Linked DNA regions of Homo sapiens: region 2 is linked to region 1. Evidence: fine-mapped expression QTL. A gene starts in region 1. The other region holds a variant in brackets. All regions are shown on one strand. Distances are from middle to middle.

The links. PIP is the estimated chance that this variant, and not a neighbour inherited with it, causes the effect.
Region 2: its variant is fine-mapped to the expression of RET in whole blood (TOPMed, PIP above 0.99).

What each region holds. Positions count from the first base shown.
Region 1 is chr10:43,069,042-43,083,726 of GRCh38, reverse strand. RET (ret proto-oncogene) reads right to left here and starts at 6,658. Exons shown (of 20, transcript NM_020975.6): 1 at 6,396-6,658. The coding sequence starts at 6,468. RefSeq lists enhancers at 5,313-6,303, 6,612-7,469, 7,335-7,601, 9,684-9,845, 10,056-10,347 and 1 more and promoters at 6,436-6,734, 6,436-7,119.
Region 2 is chr10:43,122,251-43,136,935 of GRCh38, reverse strand. It overlaps RET (ret proto-oncogene), which reads right to left. Exons shown (of 20, transcript NM_020975.6): 17 at 13,128-13,265; 18 at 11,954-12,053; 19 at 10,214-10,361; 20 at 6,585-8,824. The coding sequence ends at 8,667. CSGALNACT2-DT (CSGALNACT2 divergent transcript) reads left to right here. Exons shown (of 1, transcript NR_186456.1): 1 at 1-112. Among named protein-coding and RNA genes, the nearest start is that of CSGALNACT2-DT, 8.8 kb to the left of the region's middle. RefSeq lists a silencer at 2,197-2,266 and enhancers at 5,401-6,001, 6,002-6,602. The variant A/T (reference allele first, on the strand shown) is at 10,016.

The DNA of each region.
Region 1 (14,685 bases):
TGGGCCCGCCAGGAGCCCCTGCTATGTGGACCAGGACAAGGGATGGAGAGCTGGTAGGCAGAAGTGTGTGCAGGTACACCCCTGCGTGCCCCCATCCCCGCGTCCTCTGTACTTGAAGCCTCCTGGGGTGAGAACGACCATGTGACAGGATCCCACGGAACACAGGGAAAGTGACGGTGGCCCCCTCCCAGGCCTCAAAGCTCCTTAAGCCTCAGGCTTCTTGAAGCTCTGTGCCCTCCTGTGCACATAGCCAGGCACAAGGGCTGGGAGGTGTGGCCACCCAGTGGGTAAGGGCCATGCCAGGCTATGCCACAAGAAGGACATAGTAGATGGCGTTAAGCCCCTGAGACTGGGGGGCATTCCTGTCACCAAGTACAGTCTCACATGCCCCTGCATATACAGGTGGTGGGGAGGCTAGGGGAGCAAAGACAATTTGAGGCTTTCCCGGGTCACGAGTTTTCAAGGTGCTGTGGGGCATCCTGTATGTGACCTGCCAGAGGAGTCTCCTGCAGAGACAACCTGTGGGCTGCCCACCGGTGCTGGGTCCCATAGCCAGGCTGGCCCCTTACGATGGCAGAGCAATGTGCCCATGTCACCAAGCGCCCATGAGCCCCGTTGTTTCCCTGGGTGAGGAGGGCCAGGCCCAGAGCCCCACTTGGGCTAAGTGTTAGGCTTCCTGGGGCTGGCAGACGCCCTACAGGCAATGGTGGTGGAGCAGGAAGGGGAACAGAGCAAGAGGAAGCCCCTGGCCCCTAGCCCAGCAACAGCTGCCGGGTCTGTGCCAGTTGCACTGCCAAGTAGTATGAGGAAGAAACCCAATGAGCCCTCTCCCTCCCTCCAGAACTGCACCAGCTCATGCTGCACCTCCAGCTCACCCACCCTCGTCCCGGCACCCAGAGCACACATCTCCCCAGTCATTACTTAAATTCTAGGAAATACATGTTTCCTTTTTCCCTCTCAGGAACACAAGGGCGAGAATCCTCTGGAGTCACAGGCACACAAGGGAACTGGAAACAGCTTGGTGGCCACTGTCCTGCTCCTGCCCTGGGGCCACACTGCCCCTCAGGTGCTTCCTTGGAACCCTGGCTCCTGCAGGGCATGGAGAGCAGCAGCACAGAGGAGCAAGGGCCAGGAGTGGAAGCGCAGCTGCAGCACCCGAATCTGGGAGGGGGTCTAGAACCTGGGGCTGTAGGGCCACAGGTTCTCCCCTGAGCACAGAGCCCCAGCACCAGGCCCTCCAGGTATCCCTGATATCAGGGAGGAAAGCCTATGCCCGCTGGTCCACCAGGTAGGCGCACACCTGTCCAGGTGCAGCGGTGACCTTTCTGTGGTGGTGCCTGGGCTGCTACACTTTGTGGAGCCACTCCTTGAGGCAAAAGCAAACAGAGGTGTTTGCTTGGAGCTGGCCACCTGCTCCCTCCAGGGCCAGGTGCGACCTGAACTGCTGTCCTTAAGGTCCTGCTGGCACCATCTCCCTGCCCCAGGCTTTTCAGGGGCCAAGAGCCCAGCCAGGAGGAGCTGTGGGAACAAGGACAGCTTGCTGCCTGCTCTTGCCCAGCCCTGCCCTGCCTGCAGTCTCAGGGTGGACAGTTCAGGGACCCACAGGCTTCATGGCCTCTAGGCTTGGGGAATGGAGGGGAGCGGGGTCCCTGAGGCCCCCATGATCACACAGCTGCGGGACCAGAGCTCCATGGAGGTTCAGGCCTCATTGTCTCAGCGCCAATCCAAGTGCCCAGGCCTGGCCCCAGAGCTCAGAGAAGGGGGGAGAAAGCAGAGAGGTAAAGCAGGACCTCAGGGGCTGCCAAGTGTCCCAGAGCCTTGGTCAGGAGAAGGCCCGTCCTCCAAAGTTCTCCTATGAGAGGTACAGCCTGCCTCAGGGGACAAAGAATCAAGCACCAAGGCTTCGCCTCAATCCCTGAGCCGGCCCTGGCTGCTGTTCTAGTGGGGGAGCCAGAGGGGCTCTGGTGGGCCTGGGGCCTTCTCCCCTTCCAGCCCCAAGGGGTGCAGTGCCTGGGTCATGGACCCCAAGGGACCTCCCCATTTGACCTCATAGTCCCACTGACTGGCAGCCTCCCAGGGGCCATGGGGTGCTCCCCTACCCCATGGGGCACAGAAGACGGCTCTGGCAGGCCCAGGTGCAGACGGGCACGGAGAGACAGCCCTGGTGCCATCATCACCTTCTCTGTGACCATGACTGAGGTGTGCTCCCTGCCTGGTGGTCACTGCCCAGTCCCCGCCCCTTGCCACACACGCATGCGGAAGTCCCTACACAGGGTCTCCTTGACTACGGTCTCTCCCTGCCATGAGACAGCTCTGGAGAGTCCCCAGCCCTAGAGCAGCAGGGCAGGAGCCGAGGCTCCCTCAGGAGTGCTCCCAGCCTGCTGTTGTTACTATTATTGTTACTGTTATTGTTACTATTAAGTCACTCTGCTGAAAAATAATTGCAGAGGAGTGGGGAGATAGAGGGCACAGCAGAGAACGGGGAGGGAGCATAACCTGGCACCAGGAAGCAGCCTCCAAAGAAGGAAGGGGGGATGGGGGGGGCCCACTTCTGGGGGAGGGGCTCCTGAAGTGGAAAGGAAGTGCCTCTGCAGGAGGGGAGGAGGGCAGCAGGGAGCATGGGGGGCTGCACCCTGCTTTGCCCCTATTCCCTGGCTTTCTTCTCCCAGGCTGTCCTGGAGGATGGGAAAAATGAGGAGGAAGGCCCTGTCCTGCATGAGGAAACACAGCTGTACCCCCATCCCTGATGCCCAAACCCCATCCCTGCACCCTTGTCTTCAGAGCAGTAGCTTCCATCCGATGCCAGGGCCTCAGGCATATGTTGGCTGCAAGGGCCACAGCCTGGTGTCCCAGCCGAACATCTGCACCGCCACTGGCAGCAAGATGCCTTCCTGCCATCCACAGAGCACACACAGTCGGCCCTTCTGCTGGCACAGCCATGCCTGGTGCTCCTCCCCAGACCCATAGGACTCCCAGACATCAACTAAAGCTGACGAGACCCAGAGAGTATCTCAGCGTCTGTGCATGGTGCCACACATTACTCTGGGATCTGGGCTGGGATGTCCTGAGGGCACCTGGAGCCCGAGGTGGGGGGACTCACCAGTGGGTGGGCAGGCTCAGGGCAACCTCCCTGGAAGCCCTCCTTAGCCCCACCCTGGACCCACACCACTGGCCCAGAGAACGGGCTGGAGCAAGCCAGAGGGCCAGGGCTGGGGAGCTCCCGCATCCTCTCTACCGGTTCGAGTCCATAGGCTATGAGAACCTGTTTCCTCACCTGTGAAATGGGCCAAGACCATGACCCTTGCAGACTTGTTGGAAAAGATGAAGTGAGTAGGCACAGCACAGGGGCAGTGCACTGTGAGCCCCCATGGGGTGCTACTGCTGGTATTAGCCTTATCCAGTTAAGACGAGGGGACCTAGAGGGTCTTCGGCCAGGCTGCAGAGGGGGAAGGTCTCAGGGGAGATGGCAGCTTCCGGGCCTTCCCTTCCCCTTGGCACCCCAGGTTCCATTTTAACAGATATCATAATTTTTAATTGGTTTTCTCCTCCACTGGCTAAAAGGCTATTAGCTCCCCGCTAGGTGATCGCATCCCATTTTCTTCACACCACCAAGGAAACAGTGATTTCCTCAGCCTGTCCCTAAAGTGATTCTGCAGAAGAAAGGCAATTTAGTGAATCAGCTCAATGCACTTCCCCATTTGCTCTCTGCTTGCAGGCCCCCAGCAGGCACAGCCCACCAGTGAGGGCTGCAGGCAGCTTCTGGAGGCCAGACAGGGTTAGTGAGCTGGAGTGGAGGAGGAAGCAAGCCAGGCCCAGGTGAACCTGGTGAAGCCTCTGGCCAGAGAAAGGGGAGAAGGAAAAGGATGAAGCAGGGGGAGCTGTACCCCTGGCCTGAGCTGCCCGCGCTGATACCTGGTGCTTCAGGCAGGGGTGGGCTGCCTAGGCCCTCTGCAGAGGGTGGTCTGGCAGCTTGGATCCGGGCCCTGCCAAGTCACAGTGCCCAGCTCTTCCATGCTGGGAACAGAAGGCCCCGGGGCCCAGGGGCAGAGAGGGAATGTCCTTCCTTGCTGCAAAACAGGACCCAAGAAGTCAGGCCAGGAAGACAAGAGACAAGAGGCTTGCTGAGGAGCTGTGGGAGGTTGAGGTGCAGGGTCAGCCTGGGACCTGGGGGGAACCCCAGAAGCTGAGACTCAGTTTCCTCATCCAAGCAACGGGGACAGCTGTATCTGTGTTGAGCAATGAAATGCCAGAAACCTTTAAGAGCAACTTTTAAATGAATGTAACTTTTAGATGGAGGTTCTCTCACTCTGGTTCCAGCATACCTGGGGCTGACAGGCTATGCCCTGCAGGTATGAGGAGTGTGTGTCCCTATATACACACGTGGCGTCCCTGTGTGTATGAGTGATGAGAGGGGCTGGGGTCCCTGTGTGGACGTGGGTGAGGCAGGGTGTGAAGGAACCACGCTGTGCATGTCCACAGCCTTGGCAGCAAGTGCTGTGAGAAGGGGCAGGAGTGTGTCTTGGTGATCCAGTGTGAGTGTGCATGTGTGAGCTGTGGAAGAACCCTCATCCTCTAGAGACCCAGTCTGTGCCTGTCATCAGGCCCAGCCACTAAAGTGCAGCGTCCGCAAGAGGGCGCTTGAGGCCGAGCTGTCCCCTTGGGGTGGTTGGGGAGCACCGAGGGGCTCACTGGGGCGGTCCTTGGCAGCTCCAAGAGTGCGGCTCGAACCTCCGGAGCTGTGGCTCCTGGGAAAGAGCTCTGCAGCCTCTTCAAAGGCCCCAGCTGTCTACTCCAGGGAGTGGGGCTGCCTCTTCACTCCCAGTGCCTCCAACTGTGGTGTCCGGGTTATCCCAGGGGCTAGGGGCTCACCATCTCTGGATTCGGGAAGCTGTCTGTGGGCCAGGGGTCTGGGCACGGAAAGCTACCTGCATGCCTGCTGAGTGCCACAAGCCGGCCCCCAGAGCCTGGCCCCCACAGCCTCACTGGCCACCCCAACTGAACGCAAGGCTGTGGAAGGGTGTGGGGAAGTCCTCTGCCCAGCACACCAGCAGCAGTTCACACCTGGCCCCCTGCCCACAACCTCAAAGCCAAAGCCACAGCCCAGAATCCCAAGACAGCGTCAGAGCGCCTTGTTTGCTTCTGCCCCGTGTCTTCCCCCTGCAGCACTGGGACCCCAAAGTCCTAACACTCAGAAAAGATAGAAAGGCAAGGGCTTCTCCCCTGTCCCTCGCTAGGTGGACTGGGGACCCGCTCTGGCCTCAGCATATGCTGAGCTGAGGCGCAGGTCACACAAATGAAGTCTCAGGCAGGCCTGGAAACTCAGTTTGTGCAGGGCCTGGGGCCAGAGACAGGGTGACTGACCATGGCTTCTTCTGTTCCCAAAGGCTGTGGGGAGAGAAAGCCCTTTGTAAGGAGTGAGGGAGGATGGCCAGGGCTCCTTCCCTCTTAGAGGGAAACTTGGTTCATACACAAGCGCTTGGAGGGGATCAAGTCAGGGCCAGTTTGAGGGACACTTAAACGCGTGCCAAGGGGTCAAAGATTCCACAGCCTTGCGGCTCACTCTGCCAGAGTTTGGGTGGGGTCGATGACCATCTTTGCAAGGCCACACCTAATGCTGGGATCCTAAGGCACCTGAGGTTTCACCAGGCCCAGCACCAACGCTGGCTGGCGGCGCAAACCCCTGCCCCACCCCAAGCCCTGGGCCTCCTATGGCCGCATCTTCAGCATCTCTGCCAGGCAGCGCCACACGACTCCAGGGCTGCCGGGTGGGACGCCTATCACGGCGGCCCCTCGGGGGGAGCCACCCCAGAAACCACGGTTTTTAGGTGTTTAAAGACAGGGCGGCAAAAACGCACGAGGGAAAAGCAATCTTTTCAAAAGAGCCTCCGAATCCCTCGGCTGGCCAGGACGGCAGAGCTGGGGGAGGAACGCACGGACGCTGAGCGGGAAAAGGAAACCAGGACGGAGCCGTCTCCTGCCGAAACAGAACTCTCCGCACGAATCGCGGGCTTTCGGGGCTCCCTGACCCGTCCGCCAGGTCGGCCCCGAAACGGCTGTCCCGTTTGCTCCAGGACGCGGCTTTGGCGCAGGGCGCGGCCAGATTGAGACCTGCGGCTATGGCTAGGGTTCTGAGCACCGACCCCCGCGGCCCGGCCCGCGCTCCGCTCCCGCCCGAGACCCGCCCAGCCCCGGCCCGAGGCGCCCGGCCCGAGGCGTCCTGCCCTTCGCCCGCCGCCCGCCGCAGCCACTGCGCTCCCAGCCGAGGCCGGGTGGCCGGCGACCGCACAGCCCGCTGCCCACGGCAAACAGAAAGGCGCTTCTGAACGCGCCCGCTCCGCTGCTCGGCGCCAACTTCGCCCTGGCCCCTGCGGGAGCCGGCGGCCGGCAGAACTCACCTTTGCCTAGCAGCGGCAGCAGCAGCAGCAACAGCAGACGCAGCCCCGCGGCACCGGACGTCGCCTTCGCCATCGCCCGTGCGCGCTGGGGCCACGGCTGGAGGGACTGCGGCTAGGGCCGGCGGGTCTGGATGGCGGGTGCGGCGCTCAGTCTGGCCGCCCCATCCCCGCCCGGGGCGCGGCGGACGCGACGGACACTGGGGGCGCGACGCACGTTCCGGGGCACTCAGCGCTGCTGCGCGCCCTGCTTCGGTCGCGGGACTGAAGCGAGGTAAGCGCCGGCTGCGCCGGAGGAGCGGGTAGGGGCGGGGCGGGGCGGGGGCGGTCCAGGGGTGGGCCAGGCGGGGCCGGAGGCGGGTGGGGTGCGGGAAGGGGCGGGGCTCCAGTGCTTGCTCTGGCTGCGCGGGGTGCGGCCGGGGCGCGGCGCGTGTAGGAGCTCAGTGCGGGACGCGCGGCTTGGGCCGGGTGGGGCTTGGGGAGGAGCGGGGTGCGGGAGCGGGGTGCGGCCGAAAAGGGCCCGGCAGGAGCCGGGTGCGGACCCCGAGGTGCGCGGCGGGGATGGAACCCAGGAGCCCGGGTCCGCGCACCTACGCAGAGCCGCTCTTCCTACCCGGTGCGCGCCCGCTTGCAGTCCCTGCCTTTTGCCCTTTCCGCTGCACAGAGAGGGCAGGGATGCTACGCGGGATGCAGGTCTGGCCGACTGGCTCGGGGTGCGACCCCGCGGACTCAGAGAAGGGCGCCCCGCCTCCAGGCTCTCCGCGGAGCGCTTGCTGCGCCATTTCTCAGAGGCGAGAGGCGCAGTGGGAGCGCGGCCTCTGCTGGGGCCGGAGGCAGGAGGCGGGGAAGAGCTGAGCAGGGGAAGAGAGGCAGAATAGCCTTTTTCAGCATCCTGGGGTAGTAGAGAGGGTAGGGTCCTGGAAGGGCAGTTTGTGATTCCCCCCTCCAGCACTGGTCCAACCCTTGGAAACCGGAAACTGGCTCCGGCGTCCTTTCAGAGACCTGGTGCTGGTGGCCCTTGCATCCCTTACACAGGAGAACTCTCAGGAGATGGGCTGGCAGAGTCGGAGAGCGAGTAGCGAGGAGGAGGAAAGAATCCAATTTTCCCCCAAAGAAATGATGGAAATGATGCGCATAAACACATTTACCCCTAATAGGGAGCAGCAACTGGACCTGAGAAGGGGTTCTGGGTGAGGTTGGATGTGGGCTCAGTGGGGAAGTCCTCTGTTCTCGCCCCATCCCCGGCTGCTTTTTGAGGTCTGGCCTGCACTTAGGCGCAGAGGGATGGAAGAAGGGAAGCCCATGGGCCCTTGAGGAGGAAAAGCCAGGGAACCTGGGCCCAGGGCACCCTTGAGCCAGCCGCTCCCTTGCTTGCTGTGTGCAGAACCCCGCCCTCTTGCCTGGCTGAGCTCAGGGCTGAATAAGTGATCTGCACATCACTGCAGATATGAAGTCAAAGTGAAGTCACCCTCACAGGCAGGAGGGGGAGCTGCCAAGACAGAGGCTGGCTTGCACTCAGCCAACCGTGATGTCCAGACCTGGCTTGCTGAGGGGCAGGTGGCCGGGGCACAGGCCTGCCAGCCCAGGAGAGACACTGTGGGCCACTGGACTCCGGCTGCCTGCCACACCCTTCCAGTTTATGGAGCTAGAGTTGGCCACAAGGGGCTCCCTTGGGTTCAGACAGGTTCCATCTCTGGTGCCAGTGGCTACCTAGGCTACACACTCAGGCCTGTGCCCAGGGAAGGGACCTGATAGGTAGGGAGGGGCTGGGGGCATCTTTTGGCTACAGACAAGCTCCTGTGATTGCCTCCTAGGTGAATGAAGAGAGAAGTGGGTAGGCTTAAATAGCCCCACCCCTGCACCTCCCGGGGACCACCCTGGCCAGCCCTTGGCTGACATTGATGTCTGGCTGGGCTCTGTGTGGCCATCTTAAGGGGCCATCTGGGGCTGTGCTCCTGCCTAGCCTACCTTAGGCCTTTCCACGCTCTCGCTCCACCCTCACCCTTGGGGGTCCTGAGTGAACACCTGACACTATGAGAGGGTGTCATTTACTCCTTGGAAAAAGGTCTGGGGGGCCCTCACATGGGTGTACCCTGTACACATGCATACATGCATACACCTGTGTTCCCATACGTGGACACACACGCACACAGATGCATACCTCCCTGCTACGTGCACGCCCAGGGATCTGACCAAAGGGTCGCTCAGCAGAGGACAGTTGTGAGGCCCAGAGCCTGCTGGCCTCAGGGACTGCGGGGAAAGGAGATTCAGCCCTGCCTGGGTGTAGGCTCAGTATCCAGAACATCAGGCAGCAGGAAGGAGCTCCTTGCCCAGCAGAGGGGAAGCGAGGCCACCCCCTGAGGTCTCACAAGGGGAGGTGGGGGCCAGGTGAAGTGCAAAGCAGACGTGCCGGTCTTTGGCTGCCCAGGAGTCCTGGCCCTGGCTTCTCTCAGTCCATGGGGTGGGGAGGGCCTGCAGGGGGCTCTGCCTCTCTTTCTTGACTCCCCTTAGTCATCTCTCTGAGCCTCAGTTTCCCCAGCTATAAACATCTCCCTTTCAGAAGAAGGGGTGAAACTAGAAAGAGGGGTGCATGTGAGGGTAGAGCCCAGTGCCCGACAAACAGGAAGCCCTTAATAAGTTGTAGCCATTGGGCCTTCCTGGGCCTGGGCTCGGGCACCCTGGCCACACTGCCCTGCTGAGGGTCGCGGGCTCTCTGGGAGCTGGAGGAGGGCACATCACAGTGTGGTCAGTGCTTCCTGTCCCTGCCCGCAGGTCCCCTTGGAGAATCTTCAGGGCAGCTTTTATGAAGACACACATCCTGGGTCCCCCACTCCCTAAAAATCCATGTTAAAAAAAAAGTTCAGGGGCCAGGCTAAGGGCTCACACCTGTAATCCCAGTACTTTGGGAGGCCAAGGCAAGAAGATCACTTGAGGCCAGGAGTTCGAGACCAGCCTGGGCAGCACAGTGAGACGCTATCTCTAAGAAAAAAAAAAAAATTCCCCAAGAGGTTCTGGTGCAGGCATCTGCTTGGAGTGATTAGACCTGAGTTTGAATTTTGCCATTCATAGTTGTGTGACATTGCATACATTACTCCTCAGCTTCAGTTTTGTCATCTCTCAAATGGGGACTGAAACAGTGTCCTTCCCTGGTGACTGTGAGGAGATGGTATTTTCAAGGCTCTGCCCCAGTGCAGGGTAAGATGCTCAGTGGGCAGGCGGCTCACACCATCTTCCTGTAGCATGTGAGAACTTGGAGGTCATTCATTGCTTCTGAGCAGGTGAAGATTACCTGGAGCACCTCAGGTCTGACCCCAAAGCACCAAAACGCAGCACAGGGAAGGGAGGGAGGAGGGAAACCCATCATGGACAGAGATCTGGGCCATGCCTGTGCAGGTTTGCCTGGCGGGAGGCGGGCGGGATGCTCTGTGTCCTCTGACCCAGGTGACATGGGGGTCTCTGCCTGCACTGAGAAGCATGGTTGGAGTGAGGCTGAGTGCAGTGACAGGAAACTCTGGCTCTGGGGGTGCCTCGTGACTTGCAGGTAGGGGGAAACACATTCAAGAGCGCAGCTCGGTCCTGGTGATACTGGAAGGCTGGGTGGCATTCCTGGAACTGCTGACCGAGGCCTCTCAGAGTGGGCGTGGGCAGGGGTCCAGGTCCCTCCCATGGGCAGTGTGACATGGTGGTTGGAAGCACAGACTCTGAGGCTGGCTGTGTGCACTGTTAGCAAAGTGGTCGGTGCCTCAGTTTCCCATCTGTCTGCCACTGCCCTCTGCTCCCCCATCGGGCTATTGAGGTGAGGGGCAGGTCTACTGCTCCCCACGGTTTGCCTCCCTGGCCTTGCTGTTGGTGCCCTCCAGGGCAGCTGCGAGGAGGAAGCCAGTGACCACCAGCTAGCTCTCAGGGCACTCAGAGGGGCTGCTCAGCCAGCCCACCCTATGCCAAATATGCTGCTTCCATGAGCATGCTCACAGAACACCTGGCCTGGGCCTGCAGGGTGTGGCTGTGCAGGACAGGCTTTACCTAACTGTGCAGGTCCTGCCTGCCTGTGGGCCTCAGGTGCCCTCAGGGGTGTTTGCAGAAGAGCCCTCAACCTGGCCTGGGAGAAGACCCCTTTTGCATCCTCCCTGGGGCCTGATTAGGAGCCGGGTGCCCGAACAAAAGCAACAGGGGCCTACATATCCATCAGAGACCCTGGGGGGTTCAGAGAAAGCCCACCTCCTCCCACCAGCCTGCCCACCTACTCCCACTAACCTATCATTATCACTTTGCCCACTTCAGTTTTCCATGTCCCCACACTTTGTTCTCTTGTGAATTTCCTTCCCTCGCCCTCCTTTCTTCTTTCCCCTCTGCCCGTCTTCTCCTCCCCTTCCCTTGGAGGAATCTCCATCCTTTTCGCTCAGCACCAGAGCCAGGCTAGCCACACCACTCAGCAGCTTCTGTGGTCCTCTCTGGGCCTCGGTGTCATCCTCTGTGACATGAGAGCAATAACATGGGCACTGCCTTGAGGGTAAAGCCCAATGATGCATCAGTGGGCTCAGCAGACAGTGGCAGTGTTTCCTGCCCCTCTGCCAGGGTTTTCTCTCCTACAGGGGGCTGTCTAGGTGTGGCCTGGGGCAGTAGCATGGTGGGAAGGCTGCAGGGGGCTCTGAGTGTGTCTGCGCTCTGTCTCTTGTCCCCATGTCCTTGGCGGGTTACCCAGAGTCTCCGTGCCTCAGTGGGAAGGCAGAGCTCCTTCTCCCCAAGTTCCCCGGGGATGCAGACAGTCAGTCTGCACAGAGTCCTTAGCCCAGGGACGCTGGCCATCAGCACGAGCTGCCGCTGTCATCAGCCTCTGTCCTGTCAGCTGTAGGAGCTGAGGCCATGAGGCCCAAGCAGTCACTGGATGGTGCTAGGGTGGCATAGAAAGCCAGGGGGCCCTGGACCCAAACAGTCCGGGCTTCCCACCTGCACAGGTGACAGCACGCACCTGTGTGCTGTGTGGGGCTGGTGGTCAACGAGACTGGCTTGCTAGAGCACACACCTGTCTTCTGCATCCTGGCTTGGCCACAGGCTTTGAGCCCTCCCCATGCAACCAGAAGCCTTCTCAGTGCTGGAGGGACCTGGGTCCCCAGAGTCCTATTTGCCGCAGAGGACCACTTATCTGACCTTGAATTACACATTCGGGAGTGGTGGGTTGATTAATGTCTGCGGCCACCCAGGCTCCTGGGGGATTGGCTCACATAAGGCAGCCCCAGCCCGAGGGGCTCAGAGGCCGGCTGGTCTGTGGACAGGACCTCAGGCCTGCCGGTGCCTTGCTTGGTGCATCCTCTGGAGAAGGCATCCTGGCTCCAAGCAACGTGGAGAGTGGAAGCTCGAGTCAGCTGTCCAGCAGATACAGGCTGAATGCTTTTTAGACAAAACATCTCCCAAGGCAGTTTCATAATCTGCCTTGTAATGCAGATTTAGACAACTTTTTACGAATGCGCTTTTTAAAATAGGCCTTAATGGATCTTTGCAGTAGTTACAGTCCATTGTGTAAATGCAAGCAGAAGGCTTTTTGAAAACATGTATTATTGATCAGAAAGGCAGCAGCAATTAGAAGCCAGTGTGTCGTATTGTTCAATACACACTTCCTATACAGCCCTGCCGTGCCCACTCATAACTTTCTGACAAATTATCTCGTCACTAGGAAGCCCTTTCTTTTCCTTTTTGCTTCTGTGAGTGAAAGAGCGCCCCCCGATTCGTTATTAGCTGGAGGTAAGGTCAATGAAAAATTAAGCTCACCATTGCCATTGCAAAACCTATTTACAACTTCTCCTTGGGCTTCTCAACTACAACCAGGTCTGAGCTGGAGGGGCTACAGAAGGGCCACAGAGGAGCCACTTCGAAGGAGGAACCCTGGCATCCAAGGCCACCATGAGCTGCCATTCAGCGGGGTTCCAGGGAGGAAGTGTGCCCCCGCCTGCTCCCAGTGTTCTCAGCATTTCTCCTCTTCAGTCGCCAAACCCAAAATGACCACTGAGGATTTGTTTTTTGCTCCAACACTGGTAGGAGAATCTCTCTTTCCCCCAGTCTGCACAATTGCCCTTCGTCCTTCTTGAAAAGCCCACTTATTTATTTGACAGATATCTCCTGGGCCCTTGCTATATTCCAGGCACCATTTTTGGAAACAGAGACGTTGCAGTGGAGAAAACCAAGTCCCTCCATTCCCCGTACATCTAGGGGACAGTCTCCCAAACTCAAGGCATGTGTGCAGGGGTCCAAGGCAGAAGAGATGTAGGTGATGGTTGTCAGGCCTGGGCGGCCCCGGGAGCTGACCTTGGGCAAAGAAGATGGTGCTGGGGGACAGTGCTGCCCTGGAGACACCGGGAGGTGGTGGGAGGCCAGCCAACCTTGGCTTCCCCGCAGTGCCCCAGCAGGAACAGGCAGGCATTCACCCTTCCCGGAGAGCATCCTCTCAGCAGCCTCTGGCTGGCCTCCCTGGAAGTTGCAGTGCGCCCTCCGTCCTCTGAGAGGTGTCCTGCCCGCAGGACCTTCAGAGGCTCACTTTGGCCCAGGAGGTCTTTTGGAGCCAAAAAACCCTGTGGTGCTTTGGGATGCTGACAAACAGGAAGCCAGTGACTGAATGCCCCAGTGGTGTCTGCAGGCTGCCATGGGCCCAGGATGGAGGTGGCTGTGGCTCTGGCAAGGTGTGTATCTGCCAGGGCCCTCCAGGCCTGTGGGTGCACAGGGGAGCCTGCCTTGCTCCACACTCGGGAGCTGCTGTGAGCTGCAGGGACAGGAGGGAACTGTAAGCTGCCTGCCGGCCACCTTCCTTTCCTCCCTCCTGCTTGCCCTTGGGTGTGGGGTGCAGGGTGCAGGTCGTGCGTGGTTTCCAGCCCCTGTGTCTACAGAGGGTCCAGGCACTTGGTACTTGCTCAGGTACTGCACTGGGCCCAGGCACTTGGTACCCCTTCCGGCTCTCCCGCAGGCCTTTGTTGCTTTGGAAGCCCTGGGGCTGGTTGCAGGCAGAGCCCTCAGGACTTCCCCTCCAGCCCCTGCACTACCCTGTGCTGCTACCTGAGCTGAGGCCTGCCCAGGGCTTCCCGCCATGCCTGGACCCCTCATACAAACCAGAGAGGCCCCTCCCTGCTTGCTCTGTCTGTCCAGGGGAAGGTTCTGCGACGATGACCATGTTGAACTTTGTGCTGCCTGAGCACTTAAAATGTGGCTAGTGTGACTGAGGAACTGAATGTTTAATTTTATTGAATTTAAGATAATGTAAAATTAAATATTCACATGTGGCCAGGATACTTATTGAGCAATGCAGCTCTAAAAAACATCTCCGTAGCCTCTCCTTGGGGGTGCCTGGGGAAGATGGGCTCCTGCCACCCACCTCCCTGCTGGAAGGAGAGCAGAGAAGCAGCCGGTTGAATTGTTCCAGGGAACTCTGCTCTTGCAGCATTCCCTCTGGGCCCTGGCTTCCAGGCAGCTTGAAAATGCACAGCCCTGAGGAGACGGGCGGCACTGCAGGGGTACACCCTGGGCACCCCCTATCTGGAGAGTCTTCTGCTTCCCTCCAGGCCCAGCCCCAGGACTTCCTTCCTACAGCAGGCATGGCTAGGAGCACAGACACAGCTCAGCCTTGGCAGAGCCCTGCCCTCAGGGGCCTCTTTGGAAAGGGGCTGATGAGCTACTGCGTATTAAGAGGCTGATGAAGAGCTGTCAGGGGACTCTGTATGCAGCCAGAGGCCCAGGCCTGATCACTAATGCTGGGACCTCAGCATCCAGCCCTCTCTCCTCTGCCCCAGACTCCCCATCCCTCAGACTCCCAGGTGTTCCCTGTCCTGGACCCCCACCTGCCTGGGAGGATCTTCCTGGCTCCTCCCAGCCCCTCTGTTGTCCAACTCCTACTCATCACTCAGAAGTCACCTCTTCCCACCCTGCTTAGATGCTTGGCACTGGCGCTGCATGGAGCCTAGCGCCCTAGCTGTGCTGCATTTCCCTGTGGCCTGAGGAAGGCCTTGCAATGTCTGTGGCCCCAGACTCCCTGCATCACTCTTCATTGTTGTCTGTTCCTGGTCTGTCTCATGTTCCCCGTCTGCCTGCGTGGGTTCAGGTGCGTTGACTGCTGAACTCCCAGCATCTAGGGCAGCTGGGGACCTGGTGAGGATTCCTAGCTGCTGTTCAAATGTCTGCCAGGAGAATGCCCTCTGGGCAGGGAGGACAGCCAGGAGTGTGCTCAGCCAGCAGGTGGGGAGTGCAGGGGTCTGCTGGGAGCATCTGTCCGCTGCCCCACTCTCTGCAGCCCCTTGATGCACGCTCACCTGCT
Region 2 (14,685 bases), 53 kb before region 1:
AAGTACAACTGTGTTGGGTTTAATATCAGAAAAATGTAATTAAAAACATTTCCTGCCAATAATTTCCAATCTGATACTTAAACAAAACAAAACAATAAAAGTTTCCCATCTCTTTCGGGCCTTTTAAATTTCTACCAAAAGTAAGTGATGCTGGCTGATTCCCCTGCTATAGCAAGTTGTGAATAAATAGCCTTTGCTGGTTTCCACAGTTTTCCTGGTGATCCCATGGTAAGTCTGTACTGCTTGTCCCTGAGGTCCCCAGGCTTCCACCCATTGTGCCACCCAGAGGCCCCTCATGCCTCCATGTTCTCGGCCTATCAGGTGCGCCGATGTGGTCAGCACTAGGGCTCACCTCACTCTGCGTGGAGGTCTCTGGCTATTTATTCTCAGTTTGGTACTCTGGTTTTGTTATTGATTCTCATTTGTCTGGCATCTCTAGTGGAATCAGGCCATTCTTTTTATCCCTTTTCACTGTATTTTGTGTTAGTGTTTAGTGTTGTGCTGTCAAAAAGTGCTGCTTGTCATAAGAAGGAAAACCGTAGGAAAGGACACAGGCATGGGGCTCATAAGCCTCTTGTTTGAGCCAGCCTCGCAGCTCATGATTTAGCAGTTCTCATCACACCGGCCTCTACTTGGAGAAACTTTGCTGTGGGTTTCCAGTAAAACTGAATGAGGTTCTCCTTCCGTCTCGCTTTCATGTCCTGAGAGACACAAACATTCCATTTCTCGCCAGCCTCACCAGCCAGCATTCATGGTGTTGTCTAAGTTTAAATCTCCTCCTCCAGAAAAAACTCCTGCTTCTTACATATACTCTCTAACAATTCTAATCCTTACGCCCATCTCTGAAAAGCATTAACTTCACCAAGGTTGATTTGGTGAAGATCTTATTTGGAGAACATCTAACTTGAACAAAATTGCTCATTTGAGAGATGCCTTAGAAACGAAAGAGAATAAGATTTCTTAGGCCCAATGAGCAGCCTTTTTTGATTGGTAGTCAGAGGTCTCCAAATGATATTCTGATTCAAAAAGTGCTTCCCTGAAAGACTCTGGCTAAAGCTGATGAGCGATTTGGCAAACTTAAGCAGCAACAACCTAGACTCATTTTCCTAGTAAATCCTTCTGCTTATCATCCATTTGCTTCCCTAATACAGCTCTCCCTCTTCTCCCCCTTATCCTTCTGATCTCTTCCCTTCCACACATCTGTCCACACTTCTCTTCCTCTTGTCCAGATCCCTGCCCTTTCACAACAACCCTCCTATGACCCCAGGATGCCAGCTGCCTCTCTGAAGGCCTATTCCTCCATGAGCCCCATATACAGACAACTGTGGAATTTAAACCTTAGACCCAAGCTAAATTAATAACCATAATTAAGGATTTCCCCAAACCCAGGCAAGATCAGCAACTATGCATAAAATAATTAAGAATACTTTGGTCAGGCACTATGGCTCACACCTGTAATCCCATCATTTTGGAAGGTGAATCAGTGAGGACTGCCTGAGCCTACAAGTTAGACCAGCATGAGCAACATAGTGAGATCTCCATCTCTATGGAAAAAAAAACCCAGGCATGGTGGTGTGTGCCTGTAGTCCTAGCTACTCAAGAGGCTAGATGGGAGGATCACTTGCGCCCAGGAGGTTGAGGCTGCAGTGAGCCATGATTGCACCACGGGCACTCTAGCCTTGGTGGCAGAGCAAGACCCTATCGCAAAGCGGCGGGGGGAAGCATGTGACCCAGTGTTACCTAACCCATATCAACTTGTACACATTGACCAGAACCTTGCATGCTAAATCCTGAATGGCAAAAGTTGACTAGACTCCCCCAAAAGGGATCCTAGGATCCCACTGTCCACAATAAAACTGAAGAGTTAACAAAGAGGCTCAAAACATAGGGCAAAGTCTTCTAAAAGCCATATCTCAAACATTCCCCCCACCAAAAAGATTAGACCATAATCCCTTGTCATGCAAAAACAAACAAACAAACAAAAGGACCTGCAGGAGTTTTTTTTGGGATAGGCTAGAAAATACATTGTATCATTTGGGAGTCTAGAAAGTGGCCCTTTCATTGCTTGTTGTCAAGGAGCTAAATCTGAAATCGGAGACCTAATCAAAAACAGAAATGAGAATGGGAAATAGCCCCTTAACCTGAACTACAACACCTGGCAGACATTTTAAAAGTGCTTTAGAACAAAAATAAGACAGGACCTAAAATTAACTTGTGGCCCTGCTGATCAAACAGCTGGGTAGCCCCTCCCCAACCAGTCAGCTACTGACAAGGGCACTTATAGATACTGTATACAGAAAGGACACTGAGAAAAAAAGATTGTTCAACTTAGAAAACAAAAATCAAGACAAAAAGAAAAATCCCTCACTTGAGATCAATGAGGTGCACTGGGGAAAGGAAAAGCACCAATATCCTGCAATACCTTTAAACACCTGCCATGCATTAACCATACATAGAAATGGTGCGTTGGTTTTCCTAGGGTTGCTGTAACGATTTACCACAAACCGGTTGGTGTAAAACTGCAAAAACCGTAACATCACCCTTGGTTATTCAGCACTCTAACTGGGGAGTTACTGACTCATTGTTTATGCAAACAATCAGAGCAATGTTCTCATCTGTGGGAATCCTGTTGTCATAAACTTATCATTAACCCTGGCAGAAGTCATTAGCAATGCCCCTTCTTCCCTAGATGGGGCACCTATCAGTCTCAACTCATTGGCATGAGTAGTGATGGACAGTCTCATTGCTGTAGATTTCTTGTTGGTTGGTGATGGCCTCTGCCACTGCTAATACTGCATCTGGATCAGTGAAACAAGAGAAGGTAGAACAGGTCACACATCACCTTGAGGCAAAAGCTATTTGGCTTTCTAAGGTTGATCCTCATGGCCTATATGGGATTTGCTCTTGGCCTGCATTGGTCAGCTGAGGTTTGCGTTCAAAGCGTCTCACAGGGACAGTTGCTCTTGTTTCTGTCATAGTGGTCCTGATGTTGTTCCACTGCATCCCATTCTTGTCAAATGAGCACTGTGATGCTATAACAACAGAAGGATCAAGATCTCACAATACGGTTGACCAGAGAGACAACTGAATAATCTCTGAGCAGTGAAGAGCTGGATCTCTAGACTTCCTTGAGTTGGCCAACCTTTTACAAACAAGAAAATGACCGACAAGGGGGACTAAGAGACTGAACATGCAAACAGACAATGGCCAGACCACATACGGCCAGAGGATTTGAATCAGATTCTCTGCAGAACTAGCCAGGAAGCCAAACCACAGCCTCTGTAACAATTATCCCAGAATGGTTAGGACTTGGTCAGGAACTGCAAGCTTCCCTATTTTTTGCCCACTGAACTAAACAGAGAAAGCCACCTGTGTCCCCCAAACCAATCACATAAGAGGCCCTCCTCCTGGTTAGCTGCCTCCAGCTTCCCCAGGCCAACAAGCCCCAATCACAGCATCCCTGAAGGCTTCTCCTCACCCTCCCCACCTTTTATTTTTTACTATAAGGCTTTCCCACTCCTCTGCCTGCTTTTGAGTGTCTGCCAAAAGTAAGTGATCCTGGCTGACTCTCTTGCTATAGCAAGTTCAGAACCAGTGGCTCCTGTGGGTTCTCATATGGGTAGCCTTTGCTTATTTCTACAAAGTTAAAGATTAGAGGTAATTGTGTGAATATCTCTTTAAAAATAGTGTCCAACCACACTTCCTCTACTTTTTCCAGTGACTGTCTTGTGAGACACTACAGCTCTTCCATCCTTGGTGTCATTCTTATTTTTAGAAATCATTTGCTATGATCTTACTTTTCTTCCCAGACACTGAAGTCCCCCAAACCCTCAGTGTGCTCCTTTACCATGGGGTTCTGAGCAATCTAAGAGCTTCAGGCCCTGTGGCCAGAGTCTCCAGGAAAATTCTCAAGCTCTTGAAAACTCCCAGAAGAAAGGCACAAAATATGGAGCAAGGCACACGCCCTAGGGAGAGGGGAGGCTCCAAGACATGGGTGCTGCCTGGCTCCCTGCAGTCCTCTGACCAAAGTCTCTTGCCCCTGGAGACCCCTTCTTCCATGGGAGAGTATAGAAAAGGATTGATGTGCAGGTGAGACAATCGAGCAGCCAAGAAACAGGTTGCTCTTCTGTTAATACATTGAGAAAAATACACAAAAACTTGAATGTTTTAAATGAATTTCATATTTTTATTCAAGAAATTGACAGTCTGCATGGTAAATATTGTCTGTGTATGAAATATCAAACTTGTTTCCTTCTCAGAAAATGAAAAATGATTTTTTTTAGCTTTAGAATTCACTTACCTTGCTTACCAGCACATTTTTAGCTTGAACTGCTCAGTGTCATCTGAGAGGATGCAGGTCTATGATCTCTCCCAGTGTGGTAGTCACAGTGGCTGGGGTAGTTTCAGACCGCAAGCTCCCTCCATGATGACCTTCACATTTCTGCAGCCCCCACAGTGAGATGTGCCCCCATAAAGGATCCCCTGCCCGGGGTCCAGCTGAGAGATCTTGCTTGGCCAGGTCCTGTGATTTAACACCTCAGAGACATCTGCAAAAATACCTGGTCACTTGACACAGCACTCAAATTTGTAGTTGCAAAGATAAACTGTGATTTCTCCAGGGTGTTCAGAGTGTTTGCCTCCTTAACTCCTGGGAGCAGCCTGCCCTTGCAGCCCTCAGACGGCCACTACCTGGCCTCAGCAGCAGGACACAGTAGTGGCCCCACGCTGAAAAGTTCTCTACATGCAGGTTCTTATGACCTCAGCTAAGATGATCCTTCCTGAGTCCCAGCTCCCTGAAGAGGTGGGAGACTCTACACAGTTTCGGTCAAGGCTGCTGCCATGGAGAAGGGACAGGGCCACAGCAGGAGCCCTGGCAGAGAGGGTGCTTTCCCTGCAGGCGCACAAGCCTAGGACTTGCACCTGGAGCATCTTCATGTGGAAGACGTGTGGGGCCACGCACACTGCTGCATGCACCCTGAAGACCCACCTTTCTGCTTTTTCAGGGCCACAGAGGTTAGGATTCCCTAGGACTTCCTAGAACCACCCCCCAGTTGTGAGGACCACTAAACACAGGCGAACCTCAGAGATACTGTTCCAGACCACTCCGGTAAAGCAAAGAAGATTGAAGATCCCAAATAAGTGAGCCACACAAGTCTCTTGGTTTCCCAGTGCATATAAAAGTTACACTTTACACTGTACTGGAGTCTGTTAAGTGTGTGACAGAACTATGTCTAAAAAACAATGTACATACCTTGGTTTAAAGATTCTTTACTGCTTAACAGTACTGATAGAGAGACATGAAGTGAGTGTGGGCTGTTGGAAGAATGGCCCTGATAGACTTTCTCGACGACTCAGCGTTGCCACAAAACTTCAATTTGTGAAAAACGCAATAAAGCAAAGAGCAATAAAACAAGGTGTGCCAGACACTATGCGTGAACGCACCCGAGGCAGAGAGAGGCACCGCTAACTGCTCCACCTGCCTGCGGGAGAGGCTTTCTTTATATGTTAGAAATTATGCTTTCCCTTCAAAATTTCTTTTGTGTATGAAGTATTTGTTCAAGCCCTGTTCTCAGGCACATTCAACTAGATTTCTGCCCACATAAGCTGGCCTCGTGGTGGGAAGAAATCCTTCGTGAAGGTTGGCAGAAAATGTGTTTTTAGGGGAAAATAAAACAGCAAACATACACACACAAATAGTCCTAATGTAGAGTCTACATTAGGGGTGGCTTTTAGCATTAACTTTTCTTGGCGTAGATTTCTACTTTCAGAGGTAAAGGCTACAGCAAACAGCTGGCTCTGGAGATTACGTTCACTTCCAGCCCGTGGTCCAGGCTGAAGGAGGAAGCCGTGAGCAGACACAGACACCCACGGCTGGGAAGCGGGGCCTCATGGGCCTGGGGCGGGCACTGGGCGAGGCGTGCCAAGGCCTGCATGTACACCACCTGGCGAGGCGTGCAAAGGCCCACGTATACACACGTGTATGTGTGTGACACAGGCCGTTGGCATCTGACACAATGCAATCGCAGATGAGACTGATGTTGACAACAACTCCCGTTTGCCCACTGACCCATCAGCTCCACGCCCGGCATGAGAAGCTCAGAGAATTCCTCGGGGAAGACATAAACAGAAGTAGTGAGTATGTCAGGCTTCATGGTGGTTCAGGACAGCATTTTCCCTCACACTTCTAATGGCCTTCCTCAGGACTTGGCATTTTGTATTCTGTCTCCCACAGCTCTAAGGCCAACTTCAAAAGATCAGCAACAAGCAAATTGCTAGAGAACTGTGAAGACCTAAACTTGACACTGGCTGCTGCTTTGTTCTAGGGATGGACACTTTTAAGGAAGGGATTCCTTGAACAGTGGAGTTAGCTGAGTTTTTCAGTTTCTATCAATGTGCCTATTCACACGCAAATGTACCAGATAAGCCAGCGATATCTCCAGAGCCCCTAGTCCTCGACCACTATTGATGCCTCAGTGGTTATCATGATAGAATTCTTTGTGATGTTTTAAATATTGTATGGAAACTACAAAATCAGAAATCTGTTGTTTCCAACTAGAATGTTAAAAAGAAAAAAAGTTTACACATTTTATGATACATGATTTTATTTACACAACTGATTTTCTTAGTCACCTTGATTACAAAAAAAGGAACATGATCTGGTTTAATGACCTTTCATAAATAGATTTTACAAATTTTAATAACTGACAGATTACTACTTAATACTCAGTAATACTTAATACTTAGTAACTTCTGCATTTACGTGTATGAAAATTCCAGTAGAGCTAATAAGGATGGGGACTTTTATAACTCAGGAATAGACAATTAGGTTATTGGTCAAGGATAAATTGGTCAAGGATAAATTCCCCATCACTGGGTCAGCTGTTTAGACCTGGAGTTCTTACCCTCCTGAGAACAAACCTGTTGCAGCAATTCACACTTACTGTGTAGGCATTTTTAATAATTTGAGAAAGTTTATTCTTATTTCTGCATTTAGTAAGACTATCATTAAGCATATCTGAAAACCAAAAGTTTACCATGTCTATAGATATTTGTAAAAGAACTTATCACAGTGTATCTGAAAAACAGCCCAAATTAGAGCCAGGTTACGTGTCCAATAAGCATTTTTCAAACTCTCCCTCTGGGTGTGTGCGCACACACCACAAGGCTCTATTACACACGCATCCAAGCCTTGGCCTCACAAAATGCCACAATTTTGCTGTTTTTGTGAAATGCCTATATAAAATACAGTATTTGAATGAGACTATTTTAAGTCCTATCAGTGCTTTAAGTCTGAAGAGCAGGCAGTGTTTTGGTAATCCGACTCTTTTCTGCGAAGTTACAGTGCTGACAACACAGCCAGAAGAGCTGCTGAGACTTCCCAAAAGCTGCCCCCACAAGACTGGAGGAGTGTTGTGCATCTGTGACCACAAACAAGCAATGAAGAATGACAAGAAGCTTATGAGTCATGGTCAGAATCTAAGAAACAGAAACATCTTGTAGCAGCATTAAATTACAAACACAGGAAGAGCTGATCCATGGGCCTTTCACACAGGCTCTATAAGAGCCAAACACCATCTTTTTCACATCAGAATTGTAATCAGAGGTGTAGCAGTCCTTGGTCATTGTCATTGCTACTTCTAACACAGCTAGCTAGCCTGTCCCTTTATGAGTAAGTTGATAAGATTCAAATTAAAGTGAGTACAAGCCCTACCTGCTCCTAACAGGTAGGATGAGCCACTGCTTTCGCCTCTACTTGGCTGTGGGGTGTGCTGCAGGCTGGTGGCAGGTGGGATTCACAGCAGCAAAGCCTCTGCTGTCAGCAATTCTGGGACTCCAACAGCCCCCTTTCTTCATACTGTTCTCATCAGGGGTAGTGGCTGCTCAGTACCGAACACGTGAGGATGATGTGGTGGGCCCGGGGGACAAATGTGTCTTGTGAGCCCTCTTCCCTGATACCACCATCCACATAGTAAAGATGGCATGGAATCTCTCCATTGTGCTAAATCTAGGAATCATCTTAATCATGATGAAAACCAAATGTCTTCCTAAGGAAAGGTTGCATGATTTAAAAAAAATCATTCTCAAGATCTCGAATGCTGAGCCCAGGCCCATCCTCGGGGCCCCTCTTCCCCTCCAGCCCTGGAGGGGCATTGACACTACCCCCAGGCCCCCCCCGCAGTCTCTCATTCTGAATAAGGACAGGTCATCAGGGCCAGCATTTTTCCTACTGCCTTTTTTGTGTGTGTGCTTCATGTTTAAATTTTTTTGCCTTGTTTGGCGGCAACTAGAAAAATCCAACAGTTCAGGTCCAATTTCATACACCAGGTAGTAAGTGTTGGACCCACACATGTGAACACAGAATGTTGGTGGTCACTGATGGACACAGACCAACACTGGGTGCTGCTGGGCACTGAAGAGAAAGGAATGCTTAACCACTAAGACTCAGAGCTCTTACCCGGTGTGGCATGTCTGCTAGGAGGGAAAATCACCGGCTATCAGAAGTAAAACCACCTTGGAAGTTAAAACAAACTACCAAAAACGAGTCTGCCACCTGGGAACTGAACACGGCTCGGCCAATGTGACGTTCACAAAGAAAGGGCCGGTAGACTTTCCATTCTCAGCATGTTTCTTCCCCTTGTGAGTCCATTACCTTTCACAAAGAAATGTTAACTATCAAACGTGTCCATTAATTTTGCCGCTGAGGGTGAAAGCATCCAGTTAGCATATACACTATCATTTGGATATCTTGGAAACCCAGTGTTAGTGCCATCAGCTCTCGTGAGTGGTACAGGACTCTCTCCAGGCCAGTTCGGGTCTGACATGCCTAAAAATGAAAACAGATCATTTGTTCTGCACTGAAGAACCAAAACTTCAAGTGCAGACAGTAAGGCCTTGGCAAAACTCCCTTTGATGTTCAAACCAAACTCGTGGTTTCTGTGCCAATTATATTAATGGTTTTGTGTTCCAGGTTTCCAAAAACACTGTTATAGTTAGGGGAAATATCATGTGCTCTCTTGGTAAATGTAACTTAACAGACACTACCAATTTTGACTTTTATGAACTTGAGACTCTCTAATCTGATGTATATTTGTCGAACTGCTTAACTCTTTTTCTAAGGCAGTGTAGGGCAACAGCACACTGCTGCACTCAATGGCTTACTGCAGCGGAAACGTTCTATAAAACATTCTCTAACGTAAAGGAGGCACTCGTCTGTTGTCTGAGCCTACAACGGAGAAGAGGACCTTCCAAATCGAGGGTGCACACGGGCCAGCCTCATAGCATCGTCAGCACAAATGGAGTGTGGCACTAGACACAAAGCCAGTGAGGAGTCAGTGAGTCAGGAGGCATGCAAAAGGAACCGTCTCAGCTTGAAAAAAATGCTTGAAACTCCAAGATTTCAAACAATCAATGATGAAGTTAGGAAACAGAAAAAATTTCTAGTATTTAATCAAAGACAAAAGAAGGAGTTTTGGCAAGAACCATATTTACTGTCCATTGTAAGACCACAGCACCACAGACCATGTTCTTTCAAAAAGCAACTGCTCCAGCTTTAGCACTGACTTCATAAGTGACAACCGTCCTGAAGGTGGGTAAGGGAAAGGATGTGAAAACAGCAGTGGGGGTGCGTCCTCCCAGGGCCAGCCAGCTCCTGCAACCTCGCTACCCCTGATGGAGGACATGTGGCTGGGACTGGGGCTGAGGCTTGGCCAGTGGCTGCTCGCCAGTGCCGGGTGGCCTCTGAGAGGCACCTGCCTGCCCAGGAGGGGTCTGGGGGAACCTGGCTGTGCTCCCAGTGCAGGCTGAGTGGTGCTGGTGGCTCCTTTCTCAACTGAATACCTCCCCAGATTTGTATATTTATCCACTTAGTTAAAGTAGAAGTACTATGACTTGATTCCCACCCCAGAAGCGCCTTATTCAACCTGTTCTTGGTCTCCCCTGAGAGTTCCGCCCTGATCTGTTTTTTCCTCTACCATCCTAAGTTGCTGGGCAATGTGGTAATTACACTTATTTTCAC[A/T]TCCTTTTAGAAAAACATAGTTGCAATAATGCCTAAATGTAAACTGGATGCAAAGTCAGACATTTACAAATAAAAAGGTTCAGAGCAGACTTTGGTTTTGTTCAGACCAGAAACATTTTTAAAAAGCATCACAGAGAGGAAGGATAGTGCAAAGGGGACAGCGGTGCTAGAATCTAGTAAATGCATGGGAAATTCTACCATAGAGTTTGTTTTCAATCCATGTGGAAGGGAGGGCTCGAGGGAGGGGGGCATTATTACAGTCCACCAGCGGTGTCTCCTCCTCTGAGAGGCCGTCGTCATAAATCAGGGAGTCAGATGGAGTGGACGCCGCAAGGTCCAAGTAGTCCTGGAAGACAGAGATGGCCGGTCACTCCAAGCCATGTGCCACAACTAGATACAACTCAGTATACAACAAGCCATCCTCAGGGCAGAGGCTCTGGCTGTGTCTCCACCTCGCACCAATCTCCTGACCTCTCCAAGAGACCAGGGCCAGGCTGCATAGAGCTCCCAGGACTCCTGGCTGGCCTGGTCCTGCTCTGAGGTCCCCATCACTCCCCTGGGTGTTGTCTATTCTGTCTCTTCCCCTGGAAAGTCACCTCCCTGGGGAAAGAAATGTGCTCCCTCAGCGTCTTATCTCCAGGGCCTGGAGGGCAGCCTTGGGGGACGCCTCATCTAGCTGCCCCTGGCCCAACCCGGAGATGGGCAGCACGGAACCAGCCCGCTGACAAACCCTTGGGCTCTGGGGGAGCCCACTGCAGCCACATGCCAGGACGCAGCCCCAGCCTGCAGGATGTTTTCCAGCTTTCCCCAAGGACCCCTGCCATCTAGAACGTCACGTCAGGGCTGAGTTCTGAAATCTGACAGCGCTGTCAGGGTGCACAGGACCCTGCTACAGGCACGGGCTCCCCAGCACGAGGGGCCACTGGCGTCTGCTCCTTTCAATGCCCAGCTTGAATGTGCACAGAGGGGCCCAGCGTTTTCCCGGCTGTTTCTCAGCACTGTTCTAGGAAGGCCAGCACCAGTGATCGCTTCTGTTTTGAACAACGCTGCATTCTCAGGACTTGAAGTTTTCATCCAAGCGAGACAGTGATGTGAAGTTTTCCTATGGGGTCCTAGGTCCTGCATCCCGCTATCCAAGTCGGAAGAAGTGACAACTCAGTAAATGTGCCAATGTTAAGACAAGGCCTGTGTGTAAACCCCGTGAGGGCAGGGCTGTGCTGGTCTTGTTTATCTGCATTCCCAGCCTCTGAGACATAGTATGGGTCCTAGCAGCTGCCTGATGAATATTGGTTGAAAATGTGTAGACCTCACAAACTGTACTTCCAGGCACACAGGCTGACTCTGGCCACCCCCCGATATGCTTTGTTTGGCCTGCGTTCGGCTCTGGGAAATTTAAATGAATTGTTAACAATAAAAACTGGGAGACAACATAAACCTCATAAAATTCAGAAGACCCAGCCCATTCCTGGCTCCTTTTTCTGCAGGCCACAGGTACTCCAGCAAGGAACCCTTTGGAGGGGGCTGGCTGTTTGCCACAGTCTCCACTGCTCCTTACTCACTGCCCTCCTCCAGCCGGACCCCCCTCTGGGCATCTGAATTTTGGGCACTTGCTTTAACTCAACTTTCTCATTTTCCATTATGGAAAACTATTTCTTTTTGGCTTTGGAATATTTTCCTCCCATGCCTGTCTGTAGAGAGCTTTTCCTAAATGTCAAGAATCTTGGTTTCTTCATGACTTGAAAAGAAGCCCAAGCGGCCTGGCCTGAGAAGGGTTCAATCTGCTGTCTGCATGCAGGGGAGAGCATGACTCTCTCTCTCTGCACAATCCCACTGTGGCCCCACACTGGGAACTCTGAGGGCTAAAACTACTGCCCTGGGGTGAGGCTGGAGTCTCCCCAAGCCACTTTCAGCTTGTGGGAATTGGACCCAGGCACTCACTCTCCTCTTAACCATCATCTTCTCCAGGTCTTTGCTGATGTCCGCAAACACCGGCCTTTTGTCCGGCTCCTGCTTCCAGCATTGCAGCATCAGGCGGTACCTGGTGGGAAGAGCAGACAGGCCAATATGATCCAAGCAGGGCCAGGTCTCAGAAGGACAGCCCACCACAGCCATCGCACCCTGCCCTGTACCCTGGGCCCAGTGTGCTCTGTCTCCAACTCCAAAGCTATTTCTGCATCGCTGACATCTCTGAGCCTCGTGGGACTGGGGCATGGCCTGTTGCAGGATCCCAGCCCGTGGGCCACTGTGCTCAGGTCTCTCAGAGCTGTGGTCCAGAATCCTACAAGCTTCCCTTCCCTCCAAGGGAGATTCATTTTTACTTCCCTTGCAAAGACACTGGTAAACAGCTCACTGGATACTATGCTTGCTCTGGCAGCTAAGTGAGAAGTGCCAGTCCTTAAAACTCTCAAGAAGAATGAATTGATTGAGGGCTTTTAGGTGTGGAGACAGACAAACAAGAACCTTTGGCAATCACACGTCTGTCCTGCACCGTCCTTGCTTGCCTGGGTGCCCAGGCAGACCACAGCGCTCCAGCTGGCCACCAGCTGGGGGCCCAGGGAGGTGGTACCTGGCTTCTCGGCCCAGCATGCCCCCTCCACGCCCCAGCAGTGTGCACACTCTGTGGAATGCATGTACCATGCATCTCTGCCTCTGGGCAGCCCTTTCTCATCTGTTCTCAGCCTGGTTTCTAAGACCATCTCCCCTGAGAGTGTAAAGGTTTCAACCTCTCAGGTTGCAGCCCAGGCTGCCCCTGCCTGGCTCTGCACCTCCACTCAGGCACCCCTTAACACGTGCCCCCTGGGCCATCTGGAATTACCTTCTCCTCCCTAAGTGTCCTGCTGGGACAGCTCTCAGCCCTTGAGCTTGCATTGCACCAGTCTCTGCTCTCACTCATTTTTATAAGACCCCCTAGGAAGCCCACCAGCCCTCAGTGGGGTAGGACCCCCAGCATCTACTGCCACACCCAAGGATGGCTCTCTAACCTCTGCCCTGCCCACTCCCCACCCCCCACTTCTCCTGGTTTCTCCTGGGGCTGCTCTGGATGGGGAGGGAATGCACACAGATGTCCCCTCCCTTCCCAAGTGAGGCTGGGCCAAAGCCAGTCCCCGCTCACATCTCCTCGCTGCAGTTGTCTGGCCTCTCCATCCGGTGGCCGGTCTTCAGAAGGTTGAAGAGCCGCTCAGGAGGAATCCCAGGATAGGGGTTTCCCCCTAGGGTCACGATCTCCCACAGCAGGACACCAAAAGACCATCTGCAGAGAGTGAAAGGACCAGTGAGTGGCTCCACCTGGCCCTCACAGAGCCCTCCGGGGGGCCCAGATATCCACCCCCACCACCAAGCACCTGCTGACCCTGTCGGCTTCAAGCACAGATGCTCACAGATGTCAGCCTGGGTCTGGCTGCTCAGATGGATGTAGCATGAAGGTGGGGAAGGGCTGCCTGCCTGCCTGGCCCCTACTCCATGAAGCTGAAGTCCTTGCCCAAGCCACTCCCATCAGAGCAGCCACACGCACAAGGGACACATGAGGCTTAAGATGAATTCATGATTAATGAATTAATGATACATTAATTAATATCATGAATTAATCTTAATAATTCTTAAGATTCTCACACTTAAAGCGGTGAGAATGCAGGCCACCAGACTCAGAGTGCCTTGTATAGTTCTTTTGCCATTTCTATGTGCTTGGAAAATTTCATAAAATCTTAGAAGGAAAAAAAGCTATAGAAAAACATTTTAACTGTGAAGGAAAACTCGCTTTGCAATGGGAACAAAATCATATCACAAAACAGCATCGCATGAGCCCATTTAGGGCAATAAAAAGCATACATGTGCACACCACGGAGCACACCAGAGGGCAGCCAGAGGTCACTGGGCGGTGTGGTCCAATGACATTCAGTCTCTTCTTTATGCTTTTCTCTGCCTTTTCCAACTAGCCTACAGTCAGCTTATATAATCGGAAAGCTGTTGTCCAATTGCTTATTCACAGCCCACAGTATTTAAGATGCACATGTTGGCCAGGCGTGGTGGCTCTCGCCTGTAATCCCAGCACTTTGGGAGGCTGAGGTGGGTGGATCATTTGAGGTCAGGATTCAAGACCAGTGTGACCAACATGGTGAAACCCTGTCCCTACCAAAAAATACAAAAAAATGAGCCAGGCGAAGTAGCACGTGCCTGTAATCCCAGCTACTCAGGAGGCTGAGGCACAGGAATCGCTTGAACCCAGGAGGTGGAGGTTGCAGTGAGCCAGGATTGCGCCACTGCACTCCAACCTGGGTGACAGAGTGAGACCCTATCCCCTCCCCCCACAAAAAAAGAGAGGCACATCACACCTCTGCTGACTGTAGAACACTTTAGAGGCAAGAATCCTGTGTTTTAAAAGTGATCAGCTCTTGTCATTGGACCTGGAAGAATGAGATTTTGGCTTCCACCTTTGAGCAGTTTGGGGCACACCAATCTATAAACTCACACAAGGCCATCTTCAGGTGGAGTCCCCAAGCTCCACTTGTGGGTGGGGGCAAGTCACTGGGTGCTCTGCCTGAGCCCAAAGCCCTACTCAGGACCACAGGAGGGTAACTGCTGGGCTGGGCCTGAGTCACCAAGGGACCCAGAGGGAGGCATGGGACTAGCAAGGGTGGGGGAGGCTGGGTTACTGGCCACCTGCTCGGCTCTCA